Linked DNA regions of Homo sapiens. The main gene of each other region encodes a partner of the protein of the gene in region 3 in a complex. Each region holds a gene or a part of one and is shown on either strand. Other genes may lie near its edges.

Evidence for each region.
Region 1: CRIPT (region 3) and SNRNP200 share a complex: the UniProt entries of both Homo sapiens proteins name them as parts of the minor spliceosome.
Region 2: CRIPT (region 3) and SF3B2 share a complex: the UniProt entries of both Homo sapiens proteins name them as parts of the minor spliceosome.

Annotation. Positions count from the first base shown.
Region 1 is NC_000002.12:96,281,434-96,285,082, forward strand, and holds part of SNRNP200 (U5 small nuclear ribonucleoprotein 200 kDa helicase), read right to left. Parts: intron 3,153-3,649; coding exon 2,925-3,152; intron 2,572-2,924; coding exon 2,380-2,571; intron 2,281-2,379; coding exon 2,102-2,280; intron 1,920-2,101; coding exon 1,768-1,919; intron 490-1,767; coding exon 381-489; intron 1-380. UniProt on the Homo sapiens protein: Catalyzes the ATP-dependent unwinding of U4/U6 RNA duplices, an essential step in the assembly of a catalytically active spliceosome. Plays a role in pre-mRNA splicing as a core component of precatalytic, catalytic and postcatalytic spliceosomal complexes.
Region 2 is NC_000011.10:66,055,236-66,058,884, reverse strand, and holds part of SF3B2 (splicing factor 3B subunit 2), read right to left. Parts: coding exon 3,570-3,649; intron 3,351-3,569; coding exon 3,300-3,350; intron 2,048-3,299; coding exon 1,930-2,047; intron 1,620-1,929; coding exon 1,510-1,619; intron 832-1,509; coding exon 735-831; intron 572-734; coding exon 480-571; intron 56-479; coding exon 1-55. UniProt on the Homo sapiens protein: Component of the 17S U2 SnRNP complex of the spliceosome, a large ribonucleoprotein complex that removes introns from transcribed pre-mRNAs.
Region 3 is NC_000002.12:46,623,715-46,627,363, reverse strand, and holds part of CRIPT (cysteine-rich PDZ-binding protein), read right to left. Parts: intron 3,601-3,649; coding exon 3,497-3,600; intron 3,202-3,496; coding exon 3,137-3,201; 3' UTR 1-3,136. UniProt on the Homo sapiens protein: As a component of the minor spliceosome, involved in the splicing of U12-type introns in pre-mRNAs. Involved in the cytoskeletal anchoring of DLG4 in excitatory synapses.

The DNA.
Region 1 (3,649 bases), about 50 Mb from region 3:
GCTGGGATTACAGGCATGAGCCACTGCGCTCGGCACTCCTCTAGCTTCTTACTTGTCACTATATAGGTGTATGACCTCGACCAAGTCACTTTTCCTAATCTACAAGATGTCTGAGATTAATGACGTAACGTCAAACATTCCTCCTGGCTCTAATTTCCTACCTCTCCCAGCTGCTGAATAAGGAAGCACAATGACTAAAAAGCAAATGTGAGCCTAGGTATTGAGACACAAAACTCTCAAACACTTGGCTCTGGTGGCATCTCAGCTGTTAACTTCCCTAACACCTTTTCTTCATCCTAGCTTACTTTCTGTGTATCTGCAGATTCACATTCATTTTAGGAAGGAGGTCTGTGCTAACACAGAGCACCAGTTGTACTCACGCGTGGATCTTGCCATTGTAGTACTGGGTATCCATGATGATTACCAGGTGGGCAGCCACGTTCATGCCCCAGCAGAGACTCCGAGAAGCCACCACCACCTGGATAGCCCCTGAGCAGTAGAGGGGAGAGGAAGGCTGAGGGCAGGGGTCTCCGGGTGAAGTAGGCTCACTGCCTCATGGGCAGGCCGTGGCTTACCCTGTGCTATGTTTCAGAACTCACAGCAAGGCTGGCTAGGAACAAGGTCTAACATGAATGAGAGCTAACACATTGCTATGAGGTAGCTCCACGCTGCTGGTGCCTTGCTCTGGGACTATCCAGGAGAAAACAAGTCATCATAGAACAGAACCCAAAGCCCAGGAACACCAAGGCAAAACTACAGCTGATGGACTGCTCCTCTGACCAGAAAGTGCTAACACTCATGCAGCCACGGGCTGGCTCAGCCATGCCAGCAAAACAGAGATCACTCTAAGCATGCCCCAAACAGGCAGATTCAAGGGCCAAAGAGTGACAGGAAGTGATTCTGGCAGAAGAATCTCCAATGAGGCTCCAATAAACAGTATTAAAACGTAAATCTTTGCACAAAATGCCACAGGGCAACAAGAGACAGTGGCCAGCAAGAGTGAGCTCAAGGGAGAATCAGAGCTCTCCTCTGTGCTAATCTCTAAAGTCTAACTATCTTGGTGAGACGGTTTGGATCTGTGTCTCCACCAAATCTCGTCGACCTGTAGTCTCCAGTGTTGGAGGAAGGGCCTGGTGGGAGATGACTGGCTAATGGAGGCAGAGTTCTCATGAATGGTTTAGCACCACCCACCCTTGGTACTGTCTAGTGAATGAGTTCTCACGAGATCTGGTTGTTCAAAAGTGTGTAGCACCTCCCCACTCACTCTCTCGGTCCTGACTCCTGCCATATAAGATGCCTGCTTCCCCTTTGCCTTCCCTGAGGCCTTCCCAGAAGCAGATAACACCATGTTTCATGTACAGCCTGCAGAACTGAGTCAATTAAACCTCCTTTCTTTATAAATGACCCAGTATCAGGTATTTCTTTATAGCAATACAAGAACGGACTAATACACTTGGGGAGTCTGGTATCCACGGAGAATCAGCGGTCTGGTGGCCAAAGGTCCTGGACTCTAGAAAACCAGGTTCTGAAATAGCACAACCTGATGTGTCTGCCTGTTTTCTCACCTGGCAAGTAGGGATAGTGTTTGTCTCACCTGCCTCACGAGGTTCTTGGGAGGATCAAATGAGTTAACAGCCAAGAGTCCTAAACAGTATTTTGAAAATCTCTGGTATGCTGTAGAGAAAACACTGCCACCCGCACCCCTCAAGTTTAACACCACCACTTGGTGATACCCTTGCTATGCTCCCCTTCCGTGGCCTGACTTACCTGAGCTGAAGAGCTGCTCCACCAGGCGTCGCTCCATGGGGCTGAGCCCCTCATGCAGGTAGCCCACCCCATTTAGCAGCGTTTCCTTGAGCGTGCTGTCACTTAGCTTCTCCAGGTACGGAATCAGATCCTTCTCGGTGCAGTGCAAGAACCTGTGCGGTACAGGCACTGGCTCAGCTCAGAGTAGTTCAATTCCTGGCAGACACTTTGCCAGCTGTGCAGAACCTGGCCCCAAGCAACATGGGCTAACCCCACCCTCATAAAGAGGACACCCTTGGAGTAGGCCAGCCTCACTTAACCTAACCCCAACCCCCAGACGCCAGGCCCCACCTACCTCTGCCGTTGGATGTCTGCTGCACAGGTGGTGAGGATGTCAATGGCAGTGAGGCGGGTCTGCTTGCGAGACGGCACAAAGACAATGACAGGCTTCTTGGGCGAGTGCTTGGTGATAGCATGGTACACAGGCTTGGCCATGGAGAGCAGGCGGGTTTGTGTATGGCTGATGTTGAAGCCCTGGCGACCGGGGAGAAGAAAAGACACCAAGGTTATCAGACCTGGGTCACTCAGGATCTATGTGACACCCCACAGACGGATGAGGAGAGTGGGTCCTACCTGGATGTGCAGCTCCAAGGGGACGGGACGCACATTGGGATGGAAGTTGAAGGTGGAGGTGGCACTGCAGCCCAGCCAGTGGGCCACATCCTTGGCATTGGAGAGCGAAGAGCTGAGTGCCACAATGCGAATGGGCCGCTCAATCTGGGAGGAGATGTAGCGCATTCGGGAGCAGATCACTTCTAAGACAGGCTGGAAAGAGGGAGGGAGGGAGGGTCACTGCAGGCCAAGGCTCCCATCCTCTGCCTGGAGGTCCCCTTTGTGAACAGCCCAACAGCCTCAAAATGACCTCATTCTTCCTTCTAACTAGGAGCTCTCATGTGTTTGGTTCTACCTCCTCCACGGCAGCCAACCTCCACTAAACAATACTGTTTTCCTAAAGTACTACCAAAAAAGTTAACATTGTCCCTTTGGAATAGGGCAGCAGGTAGAATCCTCTGGGGAGAAGCCCCGAGCCTCCGTCCTCAGACCCAAACATTAGGTCCAATGCCAAGGCCACTTGGTCAGTCCCAGTCCCTCATCTGTGCTGCAAGGTCACGCCATACCCCATTCTCGCCCCCGATAAGGTGGACCTCATCCACCACGAAGAGGTTGATGTTCTGCACGTTCTTGCGCTGCTTCCATCGCCGGGAAAGTATGTCCCACTTCTCAGGGGTGCTGATGATAATGTTCCCTTTGCCCAGCAGCTTCAGGTCTGTGCTGGTCTCGCCTGTCAGGAGTACCACCTTCTTGTTGAGCCTGTCCTGGAACTTCTCGTACCAGTCCATGTATACCTGGCGGGCAGAGGAGGGAGGCAGAACAACACTAGGCCATACCAGGCATCTTTCACTTATGTGAGGAAAACCTGAGATGCCAAACAGACCTGTTGACCTGCAGATCTCAAGCTACGTTCTAATCCCATAGCAGCCTCTATGCGATGCGATGGGGCAGCTTTTTCTTTTTTTTTTTTCTTTTGAGATGAAGTCTCGCTCTTGTTGCCCAGGCTGGAGTGCAGTGGTGCGAACTTGGCTCACTGCAACCTCCGCCTCCCGGGTTCAAGCGATTCTCCTGCCTCAGCCTTCCAAGTAGCTGGGATTACAGGCGCACACCACCACGCCCAGCTAATTTCTGTATTTTTAGTAGAGACAGGGTTTCACCATGTTGGCCAGGCTGGTCTCGAACTCCTGATCTCCGGAGATCTGCCCGCCTCGGCCTCCCAAAGTGCTGGGATTACAGGCGTGAGCCACCACGCTTGGCTGGGGCAGCTTTTCTTTAATACACAAACTGAGGA
Region 2 (3,649 bases), on a different chromosome or scaffold from region 3:
CTCGCACCCGCTGGGGCTTTTTCTTCTTCTTTCGGTTCCTACGCTTCCGGTTTTTCTGTCAAGAGGAGGAAAACCAGCTGGGTCAGGGAATCCAAGCACTGTGCCAGCACCCCAACCCCTAAACTCCTCCCCCATTCTCCCCCACAGTTCAACAGTCAGGCTTTTCCCAAGGAGGCCATCTCATGAAGTAGCTGCGAAGGGGCCTTGGAGTCAGACTCCAAAGTTCTGCCACTCACAAGCTGTATGCCTTTGGGTAAATTACTGTGCGTCTCAGAACCTCTGCTTTTTCAGCTGTAAAATGTAGGCACGTATAGTACTTGGAACTCAAAGCAATTAAATGAAAAATATCTATAAGATGCTGAGGGCGGAAATTGGCACAAAATAGAAGCTATTACTTACTGAACACTTACAAATTGTGTTATTTCCGTACCCAAGTCCCATCTCCTGGCTTTCCTTCCACACTCAGCTCCAATCCCTACCTCCTTTTTAGATACGGACACTGTGTCCTCCTCAGTCTCTGACGCTGACTGGCCCAGGGACGAGCGAGCATCTGTTTCCATTTCCTCTTCCTCTGTAAGGAAGAAGGTGGTGATGAGTCTTCACGGTGCCACTGCCCTGCACTCGTTCACAGTAACCTGCCTTTACCAAGAGCCAGGGAAAGGGACAGAGGGATGAGGACTCAGCTCAGCCTCTCCAGGTTCTGTGGCTACAGCATCAGAACGCCTGGCACTCACCCTGCTGAGAATTCATCTCTTCCTGGCGGCTCTCCTTCAGCTGCAGGATCTTCTCCAAAGCCTGGGGGATCTTGGGGCCCACAGAGGGGTCATCCATCTGCCAGAGACACCCAGTCAGAGAAGGCAAATCACAGTGCCCTTTTTCTTTTTTTTTTCTTTCTTTCTTTTTTTTTTTTTTGAGACGGAGTTTTGCTCTTGTTGCCCAGGCTGGAGTGCAATGGCGCGATCTCGGCCCACCACAACCTCCGCCTCCCAGGTTCAAGCAATTCTCCTGCCTCAGCCTCCCGAGTAGCTGGGATTACAGGCATGCACCACCACACCTGGCCAATTTTGTATTTTTAGTAGAGATGGGGTTTCTCCATGTTGAGGCTGGTCTAGAACTCCTGACCTCAGGTGATCCGCCCGCCTCGGCCTCCCAAAGTGCTGGGATTACAGGTGTGAGCCACCGCACCCAGCCCACAGTGCCCTTTTTCCACCAACTTCCACCTCTTGGACTAGAAAGGCTGCTGCCCAGGTGATGTAAGCAGCAGAGAGTGGGCAACACCAACTGGGCTCAGTGGGGTTTAGTGTTCCTCAGAGGGACCCCAAGACTCTGCCTCAGTAATGTCTCCCCAGTCCCTCTGCCATACCCTTAGTTTAAATAAGAAGGGCTCCCCACTACCCCCAGGAATTTAAGTCCCCCCATCTTCTCACAGAACCTTTCTCTAAAAATCCAAAAATAGTCCCATCCTAAACTACCACTCTCTTATCCCTAGGAATAAATCATCAGTCTCACCTCTCTGTTCTCATCTCCAGGGGGCGGTGGGGGACCACGAGGCCGGGGAACAGGGGCTCCCATGGGCAAAACTGTAGGAGTGGGGCCCACTGGGCCCACTGGAGCAGCTACTAAGAGACGGGAAAAAGAAATCCAATGTCAGAAGAGGCAAAACACTCACGTAAAAAATTACCTCTCTTGCTGAAAGGGTGATGGTAAACCTGCAGGGGAGGAGGGCACGTGGCGTGGCTTTTGGAATGCTGGTAATGTTTTGGATCATGGTCCAGGTGCTGGTTGTACAGGTGTGTTCAGTGTGTAAAAAACCATTAAACTATATATTTACTATATATGCCCTTTTTAAATGTGATAGATACCTTAAAAGTCTTTTTAAAAATGTCTAAATCACCTTCCTTGCCCTTCCCCTCGGTTCCAGGGTCTCACCTCGAGGACCCAGAGGAGTGCGCACACCAATCTGGCCCATGTCTTGTGGGGGCCGAGGGACTGGGGTGCCCATCTTGGCAATCTCCTGCTGTCGTTCCTGCTCCAGTAACACAGCTGCCTACGGGAGGGAAGTGGGAGTAGATACTGCCTGAAAACGCATTTGGCAGGCAGCCCCTGGCAAATGCATTCTTTCAGCCGGGTAATGGGCCCAAGGAGAACAATCACGAACCACTTGGGTGCTGACATCCCCTCCACCCCCACACTTCCAGGCTACTAATCCAAACGGAGGAGCCCTCTCATCACAACGGAAAATCCCTAGAAATAACACCAAGGAAAACCCCAGGAAACTTCTGGTTCCTAGCAGAGAATTTCATATTGAGCCAAACAGTGCCTTCTACTTTTCAGAGAGTTTTCTTCCCCAAAAGATTAAATTATACAGAAGAAACTTTTGAGCTCTTTTCTTATATCCACCCCTCAAGATCCAGCACAATCTGGGCAAAGACAGTACTTTACCCACAGGTCCAGACTTGTGGCTTTTTTTTTTTTTTTTTTTTTTGAGACAGAGTCTGGCTCTGTTGCCTAGGCTGGAGTACAGTGGCATGATCTCAGCTCACTGCAACCTCGGCCTCCCCAGCTCAAGCCATCCTCCCACCTCAGCCTCCCAAGTAGCTGGGACTACAGGCATGCGCCGCCACACCTGGCTAATTTTTGTATTTCTGAGAGACAGGGTTTCATTATGTTGGCCAGGCTGGTCTCGAACTCCTGAGCTCAAGCGATCCACCCACCTCAGCCTCCCAAAGTGCTAGGATTACAGGTGTGAGCCACGGCACCCAGCTCATACTTGTTGCTTTTTAACACTTACTTTTTAATACTCCTGAGTAACCCACTGGGTAATGACTGATGCAATGCACCTCTGGGGCCAAACATCTTATATAACATTCCCAGACTTACAGTCCTATTCTGTCTAAATCCAATACAAATAACTCAATTACCCAGAGTCCTATCTAGAATGATGTCATGTAAGGCGAGCAGAGGTCAGCAGGCTCTTTTTATAATAGGTCAGAAGGTAAATATTTTAGGCTTTATGGGTTGCTGTACAGACTCTGGTACATATTTTTGGTTTGGGTTTTCTTATAACCCTTAAAAAATTTTAAAGTTATTTTTAGCTCATAGGCCATACACATGCAGGCCACAGGTCATAGTTTGTCAATTCCTGAACTTCAAGAAAAATTGAAAGCTTTGGAAGATACTAGAACTTAGTTGAGAACAAAGTAGCCTCCAGGGAAAACTTGAATGGTGCACTCTAAGCACTATAAATGACAGCCAACTGACTGGACCACGAGGTCAAAGGTTAGGGGGAGGGGTATTACCCGCTTCTGCTGCTCCAAGAGCTCATGTTCCTTCAGCGAATGATCTCCCTGCTTAAAAAAGAAAACAAGTTCATACCAGCACCAATACCCAACACGCCAATCTGCCACAACTCTTGCTTCTTGAGATCCTCTTCCAGTCAAGGGCCCATGTTCCAATCTTTAGTCCCGACCTTCCCAGAAGCCTTAGTTCTAGGACCCAGCTTTCTCTAAGGCTCCACTGCCCCTTCAGGGACCTAATGAGTCCAAGGCCAGGGCTGCCACCTGCCCTACCTGCTTGGCACGCTCCTCCTGCTGCATCAGCAATGCCGCCTGCTGCTGAGCCAACTTCAGCCGCTCCTCCTCTGACAGTG
Region 3 (3,649 bases):
AAGAACTTACGGCTAAGTCCTCAAAAGCAATTGCAACAAAAACAAAAATTGACAAGTGGAACCTAATCAAACTAAAGAGCTTCTGCACCGCAAAAGGAACTATCAATACAGTAAACAGACAACCTACAGAATGGGAGAGAATATTCACAAACTGTGCATCTGAAAAAGGTCTAATGTCCAAAATCTATAAGGAACTAAAACAATTCAGAAAACGAAAACCAAGTAACTCGTGGCCAGGTGTGGTGGCTCACTCCTGTAATCCCAGCACTTTGGGAGGCTGAGATGGGTGGATCACCTGAGGTCAGGAATTCGAGACCAGGCTGGCCAACATGGTGAAACCCTGTCTCTACTAAAAGTACCAAAATTAGCCACGCTTGGTGGCAGGCACCTGTAATCCCAGCAACTCAGGAGGCTGGGGCAGGAGAATCGCTTGAACCCGGGAGGTGGAGGTTGCAGTGAGCTGAGATGGTGCCATTGCACTCTAGCCTGGGTGACAACAGTGAAACTCCATCTCAAAACAAAAACAAAAACAAAAATACACACACACAAACAAAAACCCATTAAAAAAATGCCAAAAGACTTGAACAGACACTTCTCAAAAGACAACATACAAGCGGTTAACAAACATGAAAAAATGCTCAACATTACTAATCAGATAAATGCAAATCAAAACCACAATGAGTTACAATCTCACACCAGTCAGAATGGCTATTATCAAAAAGTCAAAAAAATAACAGATGCTGGTGAGGCTGTGGGAAAAACGGAATGCTTCAACACTGTAGAAGCCAGTGCAGTGTAGAATGCGCCTACACTGATGGAAATGCAAATTAGTTCAGCCACTGTGAAAGCAGTTTGGAGATTTCTCAAAGAAGTTAAAACAGAACTACCATTTGAACCAGCAATCCCATGACTGGATATAAATCCAAATGAAAATAAATTGTTCTACCAAAAAGACACATACACTCACATATTCATCACAGCACTATTCACAACAGCAAAGACACAGAATCAACCTAGATGCTCATTAATAGTGGACTGGATAAAGAAAATTGGTACATATACACCACAGAATACTATGCAGCCATAAAAAAGAATGAAAATCATGTCTTTTGCAGCAACATGGATGCAGCTGGAGGTCATTATAGTGAATATACACAGGAACAGAAAACCAAAGACCGCATGTTCTCACTTATCAGTGGGAACTAAGCAATGGGTACACATGGACATAAAAATGAGAACAGACATAGGGGACTACTGGAGGGAAGAGGGGAGGGAAGGGGTGAAAAACCACCTGTTGGACTCTATGCTCACTACCTGGGTGACAGGATCATTTGTACCCCAAACCTCAGCATCACAAAATATACCCATATAACTCACCTGCACATGTACCCCTACATCTAAAATAAAAGTTGAAATTATAAAAACAACAACAACAACAAAAAAAATGAAATGTGAGTTAGGCAAGTCCAGATTCTAGCTGATCCCTGAGAAATGTACTTTTCTCCAAGTCAATGAATCCAATCTTTAATGGATCTGGGATGCTCTCTGACCAGGTCCTGTTATGAGTTTCCTGTGTTATAATTAAAAACCCCAAACTGATTAAGCATGAGAGGATACTTCCTGCTCTCAGATAAATTATTTATTATATTCTGTATTATCCTTGTAATTTTTCTGGATATGAATAAATAACAATGTATCTCAGAAAAACACATTTTGAAAAGCCTTATAAAGTTAAAACTTTAAATGCTTTTCATCAAAATGTTATGACCAATAAAAATGCCATTCATGTATCTCATCACACTTTCTATACATTTTGTAGTGATATGTATTTATACATACTGCAGTTGGAAATAGGGAATGCTTTTTTGGTTTCCCACGGTAGGCTGCAGGTTTTAAAAGCAGAAGTCCTGAACCTCTGAAGGCAACATAAGAAAAGTATTCATTTGAAACCTGTAGTGTTAAAAAAAAAAAAAAAAAAAAAAAAAAAAGAGAGAGGCCAAGTTCTGTGGCTCACACCTGTATCCCAGCACTTCGGAAGGCTGAGGCCAGAGGATTGCTTGAGATCAGAAGTTCGAGAACAGCTTGGGCAACATAGTGAGTCCTCATCTCTACTAAAAATAAAAACTAGCTGAGCACAGTGGCACACGCCTGTAGTCCCCAGCTACTTAGGAGGCTGAGGGGGAAGAATTGCTTGAGCCCAGCAGATGGAGGCTGCAGAGAGCCTGATGATACCTCTGCACTCCACCCTGGGCAACAGAGTGAGCTCTTGTATCCAAAAAAAAAAAAAAAAAACAAACAAATTTTAAAAAGGGAGAGTCAAGATGTTTGCTCTATTTATTTCTTTTAGGGGGCAAGACAGGAGGTAAAAAAAAAAAAAAAAAAGTTTGGTTTTTGCTTCAAAGAGCTTTTCTCAGAGCAGGGATTTATTTTCATTACATGCAACATGGACAAACACTGTTCTGGTTTTCATGACAATTTGAATTCAAAGTAATATGTTTTTCTAAAATTCAGTGTATTTATTTGGCCATATGGATGCTCCTTGTGTTCTTGGTCACATATTAAAGAAACTGGCACTTTGGCTGCAAGAACAAATAAAAAATATCATAAATCCAACTGGTCTTTGATTTGGGTCTAGGTTAATAACTAAAGAACCATTCAGCAATAATGGCTTGAAACATTTATATATCCTATGAAACCGCAATTAGTTAAGAGGCTGCTGATTCTAATAACTATGACACCAGCAAGGGAGTGAGGGGAGAAATGTTAACTCTGGATGCCAAATTCAGAGCAAAGTATCTATTATCTCCTTCTCACTTTTGCAGTATCTATAAATAAAGTGGTGGGGGGAGAATTATATGAATAATGTTAAATAAAAGTGCATACAGAACTGAGAAATATTTTCATGGAATTTGCCACTTAGTTCTTAAAATTCTTATAAGGAAAATAACCATTTACAACAAAAGACTAGTTACACTGTTGCTGTTTAGAACATGAGAGCAAAATGAGTAACAATCAAATTCTCTGGTTTAAACTTAATTATCTTAAAACATGTTATTCTGTAAGTTGACATCTATGCCTTGAAAATTCAAGGCAGAAAGTAAAATCATTTAGAAAGCCAGAAATTCCATCAATACATCTAGACAGATGTTTGCTTGTAGTTTTTGGTATCCAAAACCTTTTTTCCACACATCGCACAGATGCCTGAAACAAAAGAAGATATGTGATCAATCAAATCATAATACCAACTGTTTGGTTTAAGTCAATCCTGAAGCTTAAAACATAATTTAACAGCATCAGGAAAGAAAAGAAAAGAAAAAAAAAATATATATATATATATAATTTTAATTATAAACAGGTTTTAGGTTCTATTTTGCCTTAGGATAAAGAGAGTGTTTGGCTAACAGAATTTATGACAGGCTACATCTTTTCTGTTAACCAAATTAGCAGCAAATGAAGTCGGTTTTATGAATAGAAAACGGTATTAAAAGAAACTTACCTTTTTTGTAGGCACAGCCCTGGCAGTAATGAGAACCTGGTTGGTGCACAGAACTTTTACAAATTCTACAAGTGGAGAACTTATTCTTTCCATATGGATCAAATCTAGAAATTTTTTTTAAAGAGAGAAAATTGTATATTACACTAGAAACAC